2 linked regions of the Homo sapiens genome follow. The protein of the gene in region 2 purifies or fractionates together with the protein of the main gene of each other region. This does not show direct contact. Each region holds a gene or a part of one and is shown on either strand. Other genes may lie near its edges.

Region 1 (5,119 bases), on a different chromosome or scaffold from region 2:
GGGGAAAGCCTGCTGAACCCCTACCCCTGGCCAGCAGAAAGCCCTGAGTGTGCTCATGGGACCGCCCTAAACCACGAAGCTCAGCCCAGCCTGTGGGGAATGCTCCACATTCTCAAGATACAAAATCATAAGCACCGCTCATGCAGTAAATTAAAATCTTACTGATATCATTATGGGGATTGTGTTACATTTATAGATCAATTTAGGAGAAACTGATACTTTTAAAATATCAAGGCTTTTTGCCACTTCCCAACAGAATGGCTATTTATTAAACAATTATTTTATAAACCTTGAAATCATTTTAAAGTTTGCTTCACATAGATCTTGTATATTTAAGTTTATTTCTATGTAGTTTATGGTTCTAGTTCATACTGTAAAGGATCTCTTCTTCAAATATATATTCCACATGACTTTTTTGTATATAGGTGACTGAGTTTTGTGTGATTTCATATTTTAATAGTTTATGTTTTCACATGCGTTTCTCAGATGTTCAAAATTCTTTTTTTTTTCTTTTTTTTGAGACAAGAGTCTCACTCTGTCATCCAAGCTGGAGTGTGGTGGTGCAATCTCAGCTCACTGCAGCCTCTGCCACCTCCCAGGCTCAAGCAATCCTCCCAACTGAGCCACCAGAGTAGCTGGGACTACAGGTAAACACCACCATAGCTGGCTAGTTTTTAAAATATTTTTTCTAGAGACAGGATTTCATCATGTTACCCAGGCTGGTCTCAAACTCCTAGGCTCAAGTGATCCGCCTGCCTTGGCCTTCCAAAATGTTGGGATTACAGGCAGGAGCCACCATGCTTGGCCAAGAGTCAATGTTATAGATAAATAAATGATAAATTTGCCTCCTCAAAAACAAAACAAAGCACAAGCACAGGGGTGCATTCACACACACACACACACCCTCTCTCCACACATGTACACTCAATCACACACACTCTGACACTACCACACTCATGCACATTTGCCCTCTCTCCACACATTTACATACTCACAATATCTCTCTCTCACACACACACACTCTCTATTTCCCACACACACACAAATGGATGCTGATGTGGTTGGCCAGAGCAGGGCCATGAAGCCAGCTGGCCTTCCTTTCACCAGGAGACAAGAGTGGATGCTCTAAGCAGGTCCCAGTTTTCTCTCCCAATTTCCTGAAACCCTGTCCAGCAAGAAAGGCTTCTAGGGAAGTGCTGAAGGTGGAGAAAATAGAATCTGGACTTTAAAACAGCCTTACCTCTGCGTCAAGGCAATCTTCAGCTTGTCATTCTCAGACTTCAGGTGTGTGTTGGCTGGACCGGCGTGAGAGGCCTTTTCATCGTCCGTCCCGTTGACACTGGATGCCTGAGTAGAAGATGGGGTTTCACGCCCAGATTCCTGGCCAAAGTGAATTATCTTCACACGTTATTGCTTGTCTGCACATCGGCAGCAAGTTAGGCATAATAAGAAACTTTACGAGTGTGGACGAACCAACTCATCCAACCAGAATGCAGCAAAGACTAACAAGTTTTTGTTTTTTTTTTAAACAAACAAACAAACAAAAAAGAAAACAAAACCTAACAAAGACTATCATGACCAAAGAAAAAGGCACTGAAGAGACCATGTGGAGTTCATAAAGTCTGTGTGCTTTACTGACAAGGGAACACCTGGGCCAGTGCTCAGAGCCTTTTTACTTACGCCTTATGGAGAAACCCACCAAACTTGGGAGACCTGGTCTCCTGAAATACCACAGGGCAGAAGCCACAAGGGAGGAGGGACTCTTAGAAACAAGGAATGAAAAAGCACATATTAGAAAAGGAGACAACTTAAATATCTTGGGGCTATGGAGAGTTAGATCAACACATTCATTAAAGAGACAAGAACCAGGTCCTGTTGTTTGCCCACTCCCTTACTACTTAGTGCTGTTATGAATATGTTCAAGTGTTTTCCGTAAGTCATACCACGTAGAGGTGAAATCTCATCTGGTGCTAGATAAGACCTTAGAAAGATCTTATTTAGCCTCAAATAAGTACATGGGCAAAGGAAGAAACTAGAAGAGAATGGTGTATAAATCCAAGTTTCAATTTCTGAATTTCAAAAAAAACACCATAAACAAAATTAAAATGAGACAAAAACCCGGGGGGTGGGGAGGGGATGGGAATATATACAGCAGTACATATGAAAAACAAAATGTCGGCCGGGCGCGGTGGCTCACACCTGTAATCCCAGCACTTTGGGAGGCTGAGGCGGGCAGATCACCTGAGGCCAGGAGTTTGACACCAGCCTGGCCAACATAGTGAAACCCTGTCTCTACTAAAAATACAAAAGTTAGTCAGGCGTGGTGGCATGCACCTGTAATCACAGCTGCTCGGGAGGCTGAGGCAGGACCCGGGAGGCGGAGGTTGCAGTGAGCTGAGATCGTGCCACTGCACTCCAGCCTGGGCAACAAGAGGGAAACTCCAACTCAAAATAAAAAAAAGGAAAAAAATATTAGTATCTTTCCTATATTGACAAGCTCTTAGAGTCCTCATCTTTTAGAGCTACATGCTGAAATATTTACGGATGAAATGAAACATCTGGCATTTGCTTTAAAATATGGTGGGGGGGAGCAAATGAGTAGGTGCACAGATTAAACAATTGGTCATAATTTCCTAACTGTTAAAGCTGACCTATGGGTACAGGAAGGTCCATTATACAATTATGCCTAGATTTGCATATGTTCACATTTTTTTGTGTTTAAAAATAAAGCTCTTGAAAATCAATACAAAAGATTAACACCTTAACTTAAAAAGGGGTAGGTAATTGATATTCACAAAAGAAGAAAAGCATACAATCGATAAACATAAAAATATTTAATCTCACTAGTAAAGAAGTACAAAATGAAGGCCAGGTGTGGTGGCTCACACCTGTAATCCCAGCACTTTGGGAGGCCAAGGTAGGCAGATCACTTGAGGTCAAGAGTTCAAGACCTGCCTGGCCAATATGGTGAAACCCTGTCTCTACTAAAATTACAAAAATTAGCCAGACATGGTGGCAGGCGCCTGTAATCCCAGCTAATGGGGAAGCTGAGGCAGGAGGATCCCTTGAACCTGGGTGGCAGAGGTTGCAGTGAGCCGAGATCACGCCACTGCACTCCAGCCTAGATGACACAGTGAGACTCTGTCTCAAAGATAGAAGATAGAAGATGAGAGAGAGAGAGAGAGAGAGAGAGAAAGCGAAAGAGAAAGGAAAGAAAGAAAAGAAAACAAAAGAAAAAAAGAGAAGAGAAAAGAAAAGAAAGACTTTTCATCTGTCAAATTAACAAAGCTTTGCTGATGAGGGTGTGGTAAGAAAAAGCCTTATTCACTGCAGGTGGGAGTTAGAATGGTGTATTTCTGCAGGCTAAGTTTGTGGTATGCATCACAAGCTTTAAGAACATCCATACCTTTAACCCAATATCTCCATTTCAAGAAGTTATGCAGAAACCACCAAATGCACAAAGACATGCAAGAACATTCATCACAGTGTTATTTATATTAGTGAAATTTTAGAAATGCAGATGTCACAAATTATAGGTTAACCAAATAAGCTGTGATACCAACACTAGAATGCTGTCCAGTCATTAAAACAGTTTTGAAAAGGAATAATCATGACATAAAGTTAAAAGGTATAATATAAAATATATCCTGGAAAAGTATGTTAGAAAGATACACACCAAAACACTAATAAAATATCTTCAAGTGGTGAGAAGGTAGATGATTTTTATTTCCTTCTTTATAGTATGGTATATTTTTCCTTTATACAATAAACATGTATTGCATTTATAGTCACAAAACAGCCCCACATTTTAAGTGTTTTTGTAATTAGGCTGCTTAAAAATCCAACTATTTTGAAAACTTAATCAAAGTGTTCATACTCTAAGAGATTCAGGAAACCAAGTAATTGTGTGATTACTAATTTTAAAAAGCATACAAGGGCCGGGTGCAGTGGCTCACACCTGTAATCCCAGCACTATGGGAGGCCGAGGCAGGCAGATCGCCTGATATCAGAAGCTTGAGATCAGCCTGAGCCAACATGGTGAAACCACATCTCTACTAAAGATACAAAAAAATTAGTCGGGTGTGGTGGCGCATGCTTGTAATCCCAGTTAGAGAGGCTGAGGCAGGAGAATCCCTTGAACTTGGGAGGCAGAGGTTGCAGTGAGCAGAGGTTGCAGTGAGCAGAGGTTGCAGCAAGCTGAGATCGCGCCACTGCACTCCAGCCTGGGCAACAGATTGAGTCTCTGTCTTAAAAACAAAAACAAAAATAGTCTTTCTCTCTCTTTTTTTTTTTTTAATAGAGATGGGGTTTCGCCATATTCCCAGGCTGGTCTCGAACTCATGAGCTCAGGTGATCCACTGGCCTCGGCTTCCCAAAGTGCTGAGATTACAGGTGTGAGCCGCTGTACCCAGCCTTAAAAAAATACATACAATAACCTCTATACCTGGGGAACTATCAGGAAGGATAAATACTGCTAAAGATTAGAAACAAAAAGTCATTCCTAAATAATACATATACGTTAAATAACATCTTATTAGGTATACATGTATTTTTAAGGTTTAAAATACTTAGCTTATGCCTGTAATCCCAGCTACCTGGGAGGCCAAGGCAGGAAGACTACTCGAGCCCAGGGGCAGCACAGCAAGACCCCGTCTCAAATAAATAAACTTTTGAGAGGGGGTAAATATTAAAACAAAATCTTATCTGGAGAAATTCAGATATTAAACTTAAATATATCACTGTACTATGCGGTATTCTGAAAAAGATAGTATATTAGAAACTTTCTAGACCATGGACAATTTCAGATGCTGAATTTCATAGGTCCTCAGAGATTAATCAAGTAATTAGCATACAAAATTAATGGTATCACTGAATCATATTAAAGATTATTTAGAAAGATTCAGGAAAGTTCCTGTCTACCTGAAATCGAATTCACATGCATTTCCATAGGTCCATGTGGGCATATTTTATATGATGAGGCCAGAACAAGGTATTGGAAAGACAACTCAAGGCAGACATAGGTTCTGCCTTTGTGAAACATCCTGAGCCACACCAAATCTCCTGTCCCAAGGGTCGGCCACAGCACTGACAAACCCAGGGTCCCTGTCAGCATTCTCTC
Region 2 (3,500 bases):
TGGCTCATGCCTGTAATCCCAGCACTTTGGGAGGCCGAGGCAGGCAGATCACCTGAGGTCAGGAGTTCAAGACCAGCCTGGTCAACGTGATGAAACTCCACCTCTACTAAAAATACAAAAATTAGCCAGGCATGGTGGCACACACCTGTAATCCCAGCTACTCGGGCAGCTGAGGCAGAAGAATTGGTTGAACCCAGGAGGCAGAGGTTGCAGTGACCCGAGATTGCACCACTGCACTCCAGCCTGGGCAACAGAACAAGACTCTGCCTCAAAATAAATAAATAAATAAATATAGATGGAATATGTTTCCATAAATGAATCGGGTAGACTATACTATATTTTAGTGCTTAAGAGATAGATTTTAAAAGTCATCTCATCCTGGTTACCTCAGGGCGTTTGTACACTTTTACATTTTACTATGAGCTTCACCTTCTTCCAGAACAGTGCCTCTAATACCAGGAATTACAGCTAGTCCAGAGTTTGCAAGTGCTTGTGCCTCTGAACAGCCAATGTTTTCTTGCCATCTCCTTGCTGCCGCGGGCCACCCACTGGAACTTCCCACTGCCTGTGATGCCCCGGCAGAATTTTTGAAACTCCTTTCATTTATTCCTTTAACAAATGTGTGTTGCTCCAATCCCCCAGACTTCTCTAATAATAGAGAGCTGTCCTAATAATAATAATAATATCAAGTGACATTTGTAGGATGACACATAGGCTCCCCTCTCTCGTCCAAAGGCGGGATTCAAAGTGATACCTTTAAATCTCCCAGACCCATGAGATTATTATAATTGTAGTTACCTTCATTTAACGCTGAAAATTACATGAGAGTAACAACATTGTACAGGCTGTCCCACCACCTGGAACAGCCCACCCCACCCTCCCTGTGAGTTTCCACTCAACCTTTTAGACTGAGCTGGAGCACGTCTTCTGGAAAGCTCCCCCACACTTAAATTGACTGTGCTATATATTTAGTGGAAGACTTGGAGAGGTTAATGACTACAGCTAGGAAGCAAATCTAGGCCTTTGCATTGTTTCTTTGAACCACATTTCCAATTTTCAAAAGGATCTAAGAAATAAATTTTTATTTATGTATTTGTGTGCTCAATCCTACACTTTTTGACATTAACTGGTATTTTTAGAGACATATTTCTTAACCCAAAAGAGTGGTTTTTTTAATCCTTTTTGAAAAAACATAATTGATTAGAAAATCTCACATTCAAAACTGGCTTAACCTAATTAGCCAAAATAATAAATAAGACTAGCTCTGTCTATTACCTGATAGATCTCTCTGCTATTTATGGTTGCATAGCAGGTATTCCCTTTATTTAGTACCATACAGGAGGGGCTTCAGCCTGCCATTTTCTCTAGGTCTAGTTTTTGGAGAAAATATATAATTTTCTGGTTATTTTCCCTTATCCTAGGACTTGAGAAGAGATTAAACTGTGAAGGAAGCAGACACTAATGTACTTTTCCCTGGAGAAATCGGGGGAGAAAGAGGCCAGTAGTGATATGTTCCTTAATCAAGGCTCAGTCCTTAACCATTTCCCAGTCTTCACCAAGTCAGAAGGCAGTAGGTCTCCAACTGAGAAACTCCCCACCAATAAGCCCTGAAACAGATGACTCTTGTGCCAATCCTGCCCTCCAGTGGCTGAGTTTCCAGGTCACTTTGCCCTGGCTCTCCTCTCCCTTTCGTTCCTGTCCTGCTTCCATAGCACCAACAATAGGCAGTGCTGTTTCCTCAGTTGGGACCTAGGATGGAGGACGCGTGGAGGACTTGGGCTGGAATCGATTCCCTTCCCCGCCACCACACTTCCTGCCTTTCTGAGGAATAGGGACACGTAGGGCTCCCCTCTCTTCTCTCACTTCCTAATCCTAGGAAATGCAGTAGTCCAGTTAAGATGTCAGAGAGAGCCGGGAAGGGCTAAGAGATGGAGGGGCTGGGAGGAGAGACTGCGCAAGAGCAGGCCTTACTGAGTGTCTGCTCTTTAGTGAAACCGCTCTAGGTTTGGTCCTCCAAATTTTGATTTTTCTGAATTCACTCAGAGGTATGTAGACTGGAAAACTGAATCAAGATGATGAAATCAACAAAGGACCAATTTCTAAATCAGAATGCTAGAAAGGGGCACAGCTTTCCAGGACCCAGAGCACGAGAGTTCCCCACCTAGGGAACGCCCTTCTGCACACCAAGGTCCCCAGAAACCTAATCAGAAGATTGCCCAGTAATTTCTGAATCAGAAACCACAGCAGAGACTGTGAAGTTTGGACAGATAGCTCGCTCAGGCCATGTTCAAACCTTAAAGTCATATCTGCTAAAAACAGCAGCACTTGGTGAACATAGAAACTCTAATAAATTATCTTTTGTCCCTGAACCATGGTTGATTGTATCTAAATTACTTTTCAGTCTTCTTGCTGTAACAATAGAACCTGATTAGGGAGGTGGGTAGGTAGGTAATGACTGATTAGGGTGATTAGGGTGTGAGGTAGGCACTGCTCAGAGGGGCAAACCCATTGTTTGGCTTTCATTTCTGCAGCTTTCTTGTCTCTATCTTTTGAGGTACCCTCTTTGAGAGCCTACAACCCTCTGTACACTGCCCCTAACAGGTCTTCATGGTAGGACGCTGGAAGGGGATAAGCTTGAGAAATCACCCTCGTCACCCACTCTTCCATCTTATAGAATTCTTTTCTTTTTTTTTTTTTTTTTGTTTGTTTTTTTCTTTTTTTGAGATGGAGTCTCGCTCTGTCGCCCAGGTGAAGTGGCATGCCTTGGTGTGATCTTGGCTCACTGCAACCTCTGCCTCCTGGGTTCAAGTGATTCTCGTGCCTCAGCATCCTGAGTAGCTGGGATTACAGGTGTATGCCACCATGCTCAGCTAATTTTTGTATTTAGTAGAAACTGGGTTTCGCCATGTTGGCCAGCCTGGTCTTGAACTCCTGAGCTCAAGTGATGTGCCCTTTTCAGCCTCCCAAAGTGCTGGGATTACAGGCATAAGCCACCGTGCCTGGCCGCATCTTAGAGGAATTCTAATCTCTCACTTGTAGGATTCTAATCTCTTACTGAATTAGAATCACAGATTTTGGAATTAGGGGCTTAAGATATCACCAGCACAGTTTCCTTATTCCTGGCAGGGAAGGCTTTATTGTTCTCTTCTACAAACGAGGCAATTCAGACCCAGGTATAGTTATATGCTTTACCAAGAATGCTCAGGGAGAATCGGGGTGAGGACAGAATGCACCTCTGCAGCGTACATGCTGGACTGCATTCCTTTGATCATAACACATTATTTGGTCCATTTTCCAGCTCAGTGGCACCATCAGATCCCACCGCCCATGTCTGTCCGGCCCAGTGGCAGTCGCTACGGATCTCTCACCAGTAAAGGACTTGACATATTTTCTGCCTTTTCCTCCATGGAAAGCACGATGGTGTATTCATGCTCTTCTCGGAGTGTAGTGGAGAGTGATGAACTTTAAGAATGTCTAGGTACCTGCTGTGTAAGAGAGCG

What was found. The genes of interacting proteins can lie anywhere in the genome.
Region 1: the proteins of MYPN (region 2) and HOMER2 purify together in Homo sapiens (affinity purification with mass spectrometry; one large-scale study listed by BioGRID and IntAct). This does not show direct contact.

The regions. Positions count from the first base shown.
Region 1 is NC_000015.10:82,857,789-82,862,907, forward strand, and holds part of HOMER2 (homer protein homolog 2), read right to left. Parts: intron 1,381-5,119; coding exon of another isoform or gene 1,348-1,380; coding exon 1,241-1,347; intron 1-1,240. UniProt on the Homo sapiens protein: Postsynaptic density scaffolding protein. Binds and cross-links cytoplasmic regions of GRM1, GRM5, ITPR1, DNM3, RYR1, RYR2, SHANK1 and SHANK3.
Region 2 is NC_000010.11:68,206,988-68,210,487, forward strand, and holds part of MYPN (myopalladin), read left to right. Parts: intron 1-3,298; coding exon 3,299-3,468; 3' UTR 3,469-3,500. UniProt on the Homo sapiens protein: Component of the sarcomere that tethers together nebulin (skeletal muscle) and nebulette (cardiac muscle) to alpha-actinin, at the Z lines.